Homo sapiens: one gene and its partner. The protein of the gene in region 2 interacts with the protein of the main gene of each other region in a biochemical or structural test. Each region holds a gene or a part of one and is shown on either strand. Other genes may lie near its edges. The genes, in order: BCL2 and PPP3CC.

The links.
Region 1: the proteins of PPP3CC (region 2) and BCL2 form a complex in vitro, tested with the Homo sapiens proteins (one study listed by BioGRID).

Annotation. Positions count from the first base shown.
Region 1 is NC_000018.10:63,122,610-63,127,826, forward strand, and holds the end of BCL2 (apoptosis regulator Bcl-2), read right to left. Parts: 3' UTR 737-5,217; downstream 1-736. UniProt on the Homo sapiens protein: Suppresses apoptosis in a variety of cell systems including factor-dependent lymphohematopoietic and neural cells. Regulates cell death by controlling the mitochondrial membrane permeability. Appears to function in a feedback loop system with caspases.
Region 2 is NC_000008.11:22,444,009-22,451,301, reverse strand, and holds part of PPP3CC (serine/threonine-protein phosphatase 2B catalytic subunit gamma isoform), read right to left. Parts: intron 1-7,293. UniProt on the Homo sapiens protein: Calcium-dependent, calmodulin-stimulated protein phosphatase which plays an essential role in the transduction of intracellular Ca(2+)-mediated signals. Dephosphorylates and activates transcription factor NFATC1.

The DNA of each region.
Region 1 (5,217 bases), on a different chromosome or scaffold from region 2:
ACCTTGGAGTCAGCCACACCAGGGCTCAAATACTGCCTCTGTAATTTATGATTATTGAGAACTTGGGCATATAGTTTCAACGTCTTGAGTCTCAGTTATCTCCTACAAAATACAAGAGGCCAATACCTACCTTGAAAGGTTTGAGAGCAAAAGGTAGTATGCATACAGTGTTGTATCCAGCAGGTGCTCAACAGATGAATGCTACTATCAGAGTCCTTTTAATTGAGTCTAAGTGATGTGACTTGAAGGGTTGAGGATTAGGGTATCAGGACCTGAACCCAGTGGGAAACATCAGATCCCTTGCCATTTAGGGTTCACCTGCTCCAAAGCAAGTAGCTGCTTTGGTTCCATCTAAAAATGTTGACTTCAAAACAGAACTTTCAGCTTATTTCCCTCTTTTTCATACACATTTCATCTTATAAAATGCAGAGGCTGGGATCTCTGGTCTATATGGAAGAACACACTCAACAGCAACAGTAGCTCTCCCAGGGAGTAGAACTCAAGACTGGTCTATCTTGTACCTAACCAGGAGGGTTATTACCAAGAAACAAGAGTCTCCTTCTAAGGTGGTTTCACCTGTAAGGCAATCCCTTAGCCTGGTCCCTGAGGGCTTCATTAGAGTAGGGTCCTGGTGATTTTACTGGCTTGTTAAGAAGGCTTTTCAAAGTCTTGTGTAATGATGATGAATGGCAGGGCAAAATCATGTTAACACATTATAAACAATTCCAGGCACAACCAGTATCTCACACTGTACTTTATTTTTCTTCACAATATTAACTAGACAGACAAGGAAAGTTTAATGGCAATGTGACTTTTTCCAACAACACAAACAAAGTGCCATTATAGCTAATGGTGGCCAACTGGAGACTTACTTTACCTTAACCATGTAAAGTATCCTTACCGTATTTTTTATGTGTACAGTGTTGCAGAATATCAGCCACCTCTTAAAAGTATCAATCTTAAAAAGAGCCATGGAAGGTAAAAGTATGAAAATCTTGATAACAAAAGCTTTCAATACAAAAACACTTATTGTACACTTATTTTTATTTAAAACAAAAATAACCCCAGTAACTCAAAACAAAAGCAAACCTTGGTTGAAAACTTAAGAAGGTATAATAAACAAAACCACCAAAAGAAAGCTTCCCCAAAAGAAATGCAATCCACTGTCACTCTTGCAAATTCTACCTTGGAGGGAAAAACTTAATGAAATGAGCTATCTGGAGGGCCCACGGCAGATTTTCCAAAAGGTTTAGGTGCATGGATTTACTCAGTATCTACACTACAGTCTTATTTATTAATAGTCTCAGAATTTTCTTGATTGAGCGAGCCTTTCCATCCTCCACCAGTGTTCCCATCTTCTGTGCTCAGCTTGGTATGCAGAACAACCTTGTTGTTGATAGGATGTTTGCTTGAAGTTATTTTTCTGGGGCAGTCCAGATGAACCGGTACAGTACCATTCATGCTCCATCTGATTTTCTTTGCATCCAGTGAGATGCATATTTCATGATTGTCCAAGGTCATGGTTGTCCAAAGACATGGAACAGAATGATTCACTGGGTAAGACTAAAGGACTTGTATTATCACTCTCCAATTCAGTTTCACATTGCTTAATTTTATAAAATTTTTTTCTGTATTGTACATAATAAACATTTAGAAACAGATGTCCCTACCAACCAGAAGGTTGTCATTAAATATCCTGTTAGTTAAAACTGCACATTTATTGTTTAAATACCCATTAGACATATCCAGCTTGAAATTTATACCATTGCACTGCCAAACGGAGCTGCACTTTGAGCCATGCTGATGTCTCTGGAATCTAAAGGTCGTACCACAAACTTCAAAATGTTTCTCATTTGTCACACAAGGTTCTTCGCAGAGGCATCACATCGACCCCAATACAGGTCCTTCATACCCTTAGTTCTGGTTATTCTGAAAACTTCCAACTCCCTGATCCAAACTTGGGAATGTTTTACATTTAAAAATTCTTCCTCCCTCCCACCCCTCCAACAAATGTCCTTTGTCCCATAATAATTTAAAAAAAAAATCCCTGAAAGATCCAAATTGAATAACAATAAAGATCTGATTGGAACCTTCATAAGCTTGACAATGTAGAATTGTATTTCTTAAAAAGTGTGTAACCACATTTGTCTGGGCTGCAAAAGACACCACAGAATAAGATCAGAATAGAATTTCAACTGACTCCCTAATTTCCTTAGAATGGCTTGTATTTCGAGCCTTTCCTGTTTTTCTCTGATAGAGTAGGTGTACATTACTAACTATAAGTGATAAGAAAGTCTAAAAACAGCCACTGCCTTAAAAGTACAGTTGGAATTAATTAGAGTTTAAGTTCACATTTATAAACTATTTGTTTTAGGATAAGTTCAATTACAAATAGAGACTATTTGCAATTCTGTTCACTCAATAGATCCTGGAGGTGAAAGCTAGACATGTGTTGGGATTGCCCTGATTATTTACATTTAATCTTGATTATTATAACTCCTCTCGATTTATAATCACTTCCTAATTTTTCCCACTGGGCCAGAGCTACATCTTTAGATGATAAGCATTTACTAATAAAACAAAGATCACATATAAATGGAAGGCCACATCTGAACACAGAGAGGTAAGTGAGCTGTGGAGAGAATGTTGGCGTCTTGTTTGAACTAAATTGAGGTGCTTCCTTAATTCTGTGACTTTATTCCAAATCTTAAGCCTGCCAGAGTTTTCTGCCCCTGCCAAATCTTCGGAGACGACCCGATGGCCATAGACCCTGTCAGCTGTCATTCTGGCCTCTCTTGCGGAGTATTTGTGCAGCGAGGGACTGGGAGGGCCGAGGAGGTTCTCAGATGTTCTTCTCCTTTTGGGGCTTTTTTTAGAGCCCTTGTCCCCAATTTGGAAAGTGCATATACTCTATTTAACTCTGACCCTGGCCAGTGTAAAGAGGAGTACATACAGAGGACTGTTTTTTCATTCATAAAGAGCAGTTAAGATGCAGATGTGAATCCCTCTTCAATACAAAATAGGGATGGTTCTCTGTTGCCCAACTGCAAAATAATTAGATATAATGAAAAAAAAGAAGAGGAGAAAAAAATGACTAGTTGAGGCTTTTATATACATTCATTGCTTCTAACATGTTTTTAACAATAAGGAAAATGCAACATCAACTACTCTTAGAGCAAGTGCAGCCACAATACTGTACAGTTCTGGGGCCAAGAGGCTGGGCACATTTACTGTTATTAAAACCAGGTAACAAAACCCCACAGCAAAAGGCAGCCAGCCAGCAATTAGCCCCCGTGACCTCTTAATATATATACATTTTTCAAATACTCTGTGAATCCCGTTTGAACAACAACAAAAGACAAAACAGGCTTTATATTAAAAACGTCCACGTTCTTCATTGTTACTTCTAAAGCAGCTTGGAGGATCTTACCACGTGGAGCATACTGCAAACTGACTCCATTAAAATGATTTTGGCAGGATAGCAGCACAGGATTGGATATTCCATATTCATCACTTTGACAATGTAAACCTTTCATAAAATAATATTTTGCTTAAAAATTAGAATCATTCAAAGGTCTGATCATTCTGTTCCCTGAGGCCCGCCGGGGAGGTCTGGCTTCATACCACAGGTTTCCTGCTTTCTTGGTGGAGCGTAAGCACCACTGCATTTCAGGAAGACCCTGAAGGACAGCCATGAGAAAGCCCCCGCGGAAGGAGGGCAGGAGGGCTCTGGGTGGGTCTGTGTTGAAACAGGCCACGTAAAGCAACTCTCTAAAGGTCAAACCACCATAGATTTGAATCTGCTGGTCATTTGCCATCTGGATTTTTAACTGAATGAATCTCATGGGTTTAACCAAACATGCATGTAATCCTGAATACCATGAATTAAATGCGGAATTGCCCAGGGACGAGGAAACCTTCAAGAAACAAGGTCAAAGGGACAACAGATATAACTGTCACAATAAACAATTCTGTTGACGTGGAAATGCACATGACTTGGTTGAAACAAAGCTCCTCAGTGGCCAGTGACATCCAGGTTTTTCTTAGGTAGCTGAGACTCAGGGCTTATCTCACCTTCTCAGAATGCTTTTGAAGAATCAAGAGATAAAAATCTCAAACAGAAAACGATCACCTTTGCTCACAAATAGTGTATAGGCCATAACTAAATACAATTAAAAACAAAAAAACGCTGAGATGCATGTATTTTTTTAAAGCAGCTTTCGAAATATCAACCACAGCATTAAACATTGAACAGAGTACATTCCAAAGTTAATACAGATAAATGGTATATAATGCAATAATGCCACAGAGTTATTCCATCAATGTTTCAAGGCTGATTCTAAACTGGAAGAAAAAAAAATTTCCTAGTTTATTTGCTGAAGATGTCACTTCTTTTGTTACTTCTTTATAGTTCCCCACCATTGATTTTTTTTTTAATGCCCCAGGATGTACAGATAACCCCCATATTCCACACCTGGAACTTTTTTTTTGTCAGGTTTTCAAATAAAACCAAACTACAGTGACAAGATAATGTTTTACATGTAATTCCATAGACAGGGGTCAATTAATCCATGACACCTCACTTCAATGCTTCTTTTAGGATTTGTGACCCTCTCCAAAGTCATTTAAAGCCTTGCTTTAAACTCACAGGTGGGCCAAGGCCACACAGCCAACGTGCCATGTGCTACAGCCAAAATGGGCCGTGGCCATTGCCTCTCCTCACGTTCCCAGCCTTCACCATGTCCTTCTGATAGGAAGGGCCCAGGGCCTCTGTTCCTTCCCTCTACAGTGATACATGTCTTAAGAAGGGTCGTGGCTCCCATGCTCCACGTGAAAACGGGCCTACCTGGAGGGCCCCAGGGTGACAGGCCCAGCCACACCCCTCTACTGCTCTTTCTTGACAGTGGAATTCTGAGCTCCATCAGCTTCCAGACATTCGGAGACCACACTGCCCTGTTGATCATCCCTGGAGGAGGCCAGTGAGGGCCCCGGCTCAGTTCCAGGACCAGGCCTCCAAGCTGGGACACAGGCAGGTTCTGCGGACTTCGGTCTCCTAAAAGCAGGCACTTGTGGCGGCCTGATGCTCTGGGTAACTCTAGCCTTCCTGATGCGGAAGTCACCGAAATGTTCACTTCCTCAAGTTCCAGAGGATTCTGTTTCTTACTCAGACAGAGCCAGTATTGGGAGTTGGGGGGTGCGTATCCAAAATATATGAAT
Region 2 (7,293 bases):
TAGCTGGGCGTGGTGGCATGCACCTGTAATCCCAGCTACTCGGGAGGCTGGGGCAGGAGAATCACTTGAACCTGGGAGGCGGAGGTTGCAGTGAGCCAAGATGGCGCCACTGCACTCCAGCCTGGGAGACAGAGTGAGACTCTGTCTCAAAAATAAATAAATGGGCCGGGTGCGGTGGCTCACGCCTGTAATCCCAGCACTTTGGGAGGCCGTGGTGGGCAGATCATGAGCTCAGGAAATCAAGACTATCTTGGCTAACACGGTGAAACCCCATCTCTATTAAAAAAAAAAAAAGAAAAATTAGCCGGGCGTGGTGGCGCGTGGCTGTAGTCCCAGCTACTCAGGAGGCTGAGGCAGGAGAATGGCGTGAATCCGGAGGCGGAGCTTTCAGTGAGCCGTGGTGGCGCCACTGCACTCTAGCCTGGGTGACAGAGCGAGACTCCGTCTCAATAAATAAATAAATAAATAAATAAATAAATAAATAAATAAATAAATAAATAAAAATAAAGTAGGTTGGGGATGAGGGTTGTGAAATGAGGAGGAAGAAATGGAACACAAGCCTAGAGAGGTTTAGCATGCAGGGTACTGCCCATCAACAAAGAGTTTATCCCACAGGCAGGAAGTGCTCATGAAGGATTTTGAGCACAAGAATGACCCTTGATATTGTTCACAGATCACGATGACAGCGTGGACAGACTACATAGTCTCAGCAAGAGGCTCCTGCAATGGCACAAGCAAAAGGTGTGAGAATAGGATGAAGTAGAGGATATGTACAAACCAAAGGTTCACAGCATTTAGTCTGGTGGGACTGGACATGCAGTAAAATGGAGAAGAAAGAGTCTGGCCTGATTCCCAGGCTGGTCATCTGAATCAGTGACTAAATGGGTGAGTGGTGCAATTAACAGGGATGAAAAATACACTTAGAAAATCCTTTTTTTCTCCTCTACTCATTAGTGTTAATATTTACTTTATCCCACTACCACCCCTTTTTTCACTTCAATCTCTTCAATAAAATTAAAAACATAGCTATTCCACTTTCCACATCAACTGTCTGGGTAATATTTGGATTTTCTATGATTTCAGAATAGGTTTATAAGTCTATTTGTTTTGGGTTTTTAAAACATGGTCATCACAGCCGGGCGCGGTGGCTCACGCCTGTAATCCCAGCACTTTGGGAGACCAAGGTGGGCAGATCACAAGGTCAGGAGTTCAAGACCAGCCTGACCAACATGGTGAAACCCCTTCTCTACTAAAAATACAAAAAAAAATTAGCTGGGTGTGGTGGCGCACACCTGTAATCCCAGCCACTCAGGAGGCTGAGGCAGGATAATCACTTGAACCCGGGAGACAGAGGTTGCAGTGAGCCGAGATTGCGCCACTGCATTCCAGCCCGGGCGACAGCGAGACTCTGTCTCAGAAAAAAAAAAAAAAAAGAAAAGAAAAAAATAACAGTCATCAAAATAGTCTTGCTGTCCCATTAATGAAATTGATGTCAACTGCTCCACCAGTTTTCAACTATCCCTCTTCTTTTTCTTCATTTTATGTATTTCAGTTCTCTGGCCCTTCTAGTTTGCCCATCTTCTCTCTACTTCTTAGTTAAGTACCTTTTCTTTCTCCATACTGACTTCTGTATGTTTTTCTAACCCCCATCATGCAGCTGAAACCACTACTTTTTCTGCTAAACAAGCTGCCTCCACTTCACATCAGCTATAATATTCTTTAAGGCTCATTTTCTTCTTTTCAGCTTTCCCCCATTAAGACACTATGGAATCCTCAAATATGATGACAGCCTTTCCTAAACCTAGCTGTAGCTGTTTTGAGGCATTTCCTTTTTTTTTTTTTTTTTTTTTTTTTGAGATGGGGTCTCAGTCACCCAGGCTGGAGTGTGGCGCTATCTTGGCCCACTGCAACCTGCAACCTCCACCTCCTGGCTCAGGTGATCCTCCCACCTCAGCCTCCCAAGTAGCTGGGTCCACAGGTGCAGGCCACCACACCTGGCTAATTTTTTATATTTTTTGTAGACACGGGGTTTCACCATGTTGCCAGGCTAGTCTCGAATTCCTGAGCTCAAGTGATCCAGCCGCCTTGGCCTCCCAAAGTACTGGGATTACAGGCATGAGCCACTGCGCCCAGCCAAGCCATTTCTTCATTGTACTTTTTTTCTCCCTAACTTTTTTTTCTTTTTTAAATAGAGATGGGTGCTCACTGTGTCACCCAAGCTGGAACACAGTAGTGCAATCATAGTTCACTGAAGCCTTGGAACTCCTGGCCTCAAGCAATCCTCCCGCTTCAGCCTCCCAAGCAGCTGGGACTATAGGCGAGAGCCACCATGCCTGGCTGTCCCCAACTTTACATTTTGAAAAACTGAAATCTATTTAAAAAGTGAAAGAATCATAAAATGAACACCCATATGCTCTTACCTAGATTCACCATAGTAAATGTTTTGCCACTTTCGCTTTTTTCTCTACAAATGATTTTTTTTTGAACAATTTAAAAGCAAATTGCAAAAATCACGACATTTCAACATACTAATACTTCATCAGGTATTGCCTAAAAATAAGATCATTTTCCTATATAACCATAATACCATATAGTCACATTCAAGACATTTAACAATGATATAGGCCAGGCACGGTGGCTCACACCTGTAATCCCAGCACTTTGGGAGGCGGAGGTGGGCAGATCACCTGAGGTCGGGAGCTCGAGACCAGCCTGACCAATACGGAGAAACCTCGTCTCTACTAAAAATATAAAATTAGCCCAGTGCGGTGGTGCATGCCTGTAATCCCAGCTACTCGGGAGGCTGAGGCAGGAGAATCGCTTGAACCCGGCAGGCAGAGGTTGCGGTGAGCCGAGATCACGCTATTGCATTCCAGCCTGGGCAACAAGAGCGAAACTCCATCTCAAAAAAAAAAAAAAACAAAAAAAAGGTATAATACCGTCTAATATATACACCATATTCAAATTTTCCCAGTTATCCCCAAAATGTCCTCTATGGTTTTTTGTTTTCTTAATCCAGGCTTGACACTGTACTTGACTGTCATTTCTCTTTCAACTTCTTTCATCTAGAACAGTCTTCCTGCCCTTTTTGTTTCGTTTCGTTTTCACCACTTTGAAATTTTTAGAGTTCAGGCCAACTGTCTTGTAGAAAGTCCCACAAACTGGATTTGTCTGATTGTCTACTATAACTAAGCTCAGCTTAAATTAAACACCTTTAGCAAGAATGTTACATAGGTAATTACTGAATGAATTCTTCAAATATTTCTCAGTGTTTGTTCATTTAGAATTTCAGTCTCTTGGGCTGACATTGTCTAGACACTGCAAAAAAACCTTCATGAACTGTTAGCAATTAGTAAATCTAGTAATGATCATCAAAGAAATACATTATCTTGTCCAGCCATCCAGTATATCTTTCTGTGCCCAATTTAAAGATCCTGGTTACCAAGTTAAACCCTCTTCAAACAACAAACGAAGACTCAAGAAACTAAAAGACTTCAGGATAATCTAAAGTGCCAACAAAACAAAATTGAATATGGGGAACTAAAAGTTCTCTCTACATTCATCTGGATAACCAGATAGAATATAAGGGTAACTAAGAAAGATACCACTTAGGTTAGGTTGAAAGTTTTAGGCCTCAGTTTTGAAATGTAAAATGCTGCTAAATTTTAACATTAAGACTATAAAAGGCAGGGCGCAGTGGCTCACACCGTAATCCCAGCACTTTGGGAGACAAAGGCAAGAGGATCGCTTGAGCCCAGGAGTTCAAGACCAGCCTCAACAACAGGGCGAAACTCCACCTCTATAAAAAATACCAAAATTAGGCCAGGCTCGGTGGCTCACGCCTGTAATCCCAGCACTTTGGGAGGCCGAGACGGGCGGATCACGAGGTCAGGAGACCGAGACCATCCTGGCTAACACAGTGAAACCCCGTCTCTACTAAAAATACAAAAAAAAATTAGCCGGGCATGGTGGCAGGTGCCTGTAGTCCCAGCTACTCAGGAGGCTGAGGCAGGAGAATGGCATGAACCCGGGAGGCAGAGCTTGCAGTGAGCCGAGATTGCGCCACTGCACTCCAGCCTGGACGACAGAGCGAGACTCTGTCACAAAAAAAAAAAAAAAAAAAAAATTAGTTGGACACGGTGGCGTATGCTATGCCTGTGGTTCCAACTACTCGGGAGGCTGAGGTGGATCACCTGAGCCCAGGAAGCTGAAGCTGCAGCGAGCCATGATCGCGCCACTGTACTCCAGCCTGGGCAACAGAGCGAGACCCTGTCCCCCACCAAAAAAAACTATAAACGGGCATTATAGTCTAGTAATGATTGCACCAAAGGATGGTAATGATTCTAAGACATCCCTTTATTCCCATTAGTCATTTAGCAATTAAGTAGCAGCAAAGTTCCAAAATGACTACAAATCCCGGAATTAAATGAATAATTTTGTCTCTAATAGAGACATGTCTAAAAATCAGCTTTTTTTTTTTTTTTTTTTTTTTTTTTGAGACAGAGTCTTGCTCTGTCACCCAGACTAGAGTGCAGTGGCGCAATCTCAGTTCACTGCAACTTCTGCCTCCCAGATTCAAACGATTCTCCTACCTCAGCCTCCTAAGTAGCTGGGACTACAGGTGTGCACCACCATGCCTAGTTAATTTTTGTATTTTTAATAGGGACTGGGTTTCGCCACGTTGGCCGGACCTCAGGTGATCCACCCACCTCGGCTTCCCAAAGTACTGGGATTATAGGCGTGAGCCACCACGCCTGGCCTAAAAATTAGCTTTTTCCAAAAATGTTACCTTAATAGAAAGACATTCAATTCCTAGTATCAAATACTGCTTAGGAAAAGGTCTTTAATTAATTATTTCACTTTAAGTAATGAGTCCTTAGCATTTTTCTCTCAGAGTCCCTTGTTTTTTTCACTTTACAGTAAGATGTGATTAGTATGTTACTTTACAAATATGACGTTAGACGCCAGAATAATGGTTACAAGTGTCATATTTTCCCCACTGTTGCCCATTTAGGGATGGAAACCAGTGGACTGAACGTGAACTCATGCTTGTTTCTGGGATTCTGGTAATCTATTTATTTTGGTTGAGTGGTTACATGGGTATGTGGGTGCTAAATTTGTAAAAACTCACTAAGCTGTACATTTATAATTTGTACATTTTCCCATATACACTCCAGTAAAAGTTATGGTACACTAAAAATTACGTAAGGCAAAAAAAATTTTTAATCCTATTTTAAAATGCAATAAAAGAGAGAAAGCTTAATTATCAAATGTCAGACCATAAATAAAGCTTTGATCACAACCAATAACGTATAGGTAAGAAAGAATACTTTATCCTTGCTCAAAAAGAAAAAAATTAAGTGTTTAAATTAAGATGCCCTTTCAGAGGTTCCAGATTTCTACTCAGATGTATGAATCTCGATTAGCACTGATTTTGAATGTTTCAAAAGTTTGGCAGCTTGTTAATCACAATGGTAAATGAAGCATAAATTAAACAAATACTGTTGACAAATCCAGGAGATATCAACTTTAAAACGTATTCACATTGAAAATTTATACTTGAAAATGTTTCTTCTGGGTTGGTATTGTATCAAGTGACTAATGTGTCCCCACTGAAAATATAAAGAACCAAAATATTAATATAAGCACTCTAAAACCATTTCCATGCTGATTGAAACCATTATGGAAATATTTAGGTAAAATTACAATATTTATGTTAAAATAATATGAAATATTTGCATAACAAAAGCTTTAATATGTGTGATCCATTTTCCTTTGAATTCAAAATATACCTGCAGATGGAAACACACAAAGGTATTAAAAGCAGTTATTTCTGCTGGGAAGGAATATGAAGTCTTTCTTTTCTTCCCTTTCTGATTTTCAAATTGTATAAGTAGCAGGATTAAGCTTATATTTAAGAGAAAAAATTTTAAACCCTCGGTAAATCCATTATGGATATAAAAAAGGGAGAGTCGGGGGAGAGTTGTGGAAAGAAATGAAGTATAGGTACCAGAGATTGAAATCGGGTTTAGGGTATATTTGTAGAAATAGCAATTTTTGTCCACACTAATATTAAAATATTTTAAGAAAGCCATAAGCACAATATTCCCAGTGCCACGATATTAAAGAAACAGTAGCCTGCCATGTGTGGTAAAAATGGTACAGTACTCTGTGAATACACAATATATTTGAATTCTAAGAGAAAGGGAGAAATGTATCAGCACCTTACTAAAAAGAAATCTGACTTTTCTGTTAAACCCCATCTGGCCATAAAGTAACAAAATAAGACAATGGATTCTCTATATTTGTCATGTAATTCCTACTGAAATTTCCTTGTTGCTTCTGAAAAGATTCATTCCAGGGAAATAAACTGCTTTTATAAAAATCACTGTCAAAGAAAAAACATGTCCTTAAACAGGAAAAGGAACGTGGAAACTAGAAAAAAAAATAAAGCAGACAGAATATCACAATTTAATCATTTGGGTGCCTAGTTCTCTGGCTTAGATACCAGTTATGGTGCCCCAGTGCATATAAACTGCTCTAAAGGCTCACAGAAATGCTACTTTTAAAGCAAAGAAGAAATGAATGAGCAACCTACTAGGGTACATTGCAGATGGCACTCAATAAACATTTAATGAATGAGTAAAATCATAAGAAGGTTTAAACATAAAATAAACACCTTCAACAGATAGAGAAGAAATCTGCTGCCTAGGGAGTACCAGACAGAACTGTGCTGATCTCTTCACATTGTTACCGACGAGATTTCACCCACATATCCATTATGCTGTAGAATAGGTATTCACCTGACTAGGAACAGTTTTGTAGCTTATAATTTCACATACTTTCTGATATTTTCAAATGTTAATGATATCTCTACTAACTACTTCTGTAGTAAGCGATCTATTACCAACCTATTATCATGTCTCAAAGTACTACCTTAACTTGACCTTTTCACATGCTTTATGTCACTTGCATGACCCAGGCTTGACAGGGAAGGTATTATTAACCCTATTTTACAGATGAGTTTTTTTTTTTTTTTTGGCTTGAGACTGAGTTTCACTCTTGTCGCCCAGGCTACAGTACAGTGGCACAATCTTGGCTCACTATAGCCTCTGCCTCCTGGGTTCAAGCGATTCTCCTGCCTCAGCCTCCCAAGTAGCTGGCATTACAGGTGTGAGCCACCACGCCCAGCCACATCCTTCAATTTAAGAAAGCTGCTATTTAAAGGACACCTAAAATACAAACCTCTCCCACATACCCACTCTTCTCCAAAATTTGCTCAAATAGAACAAT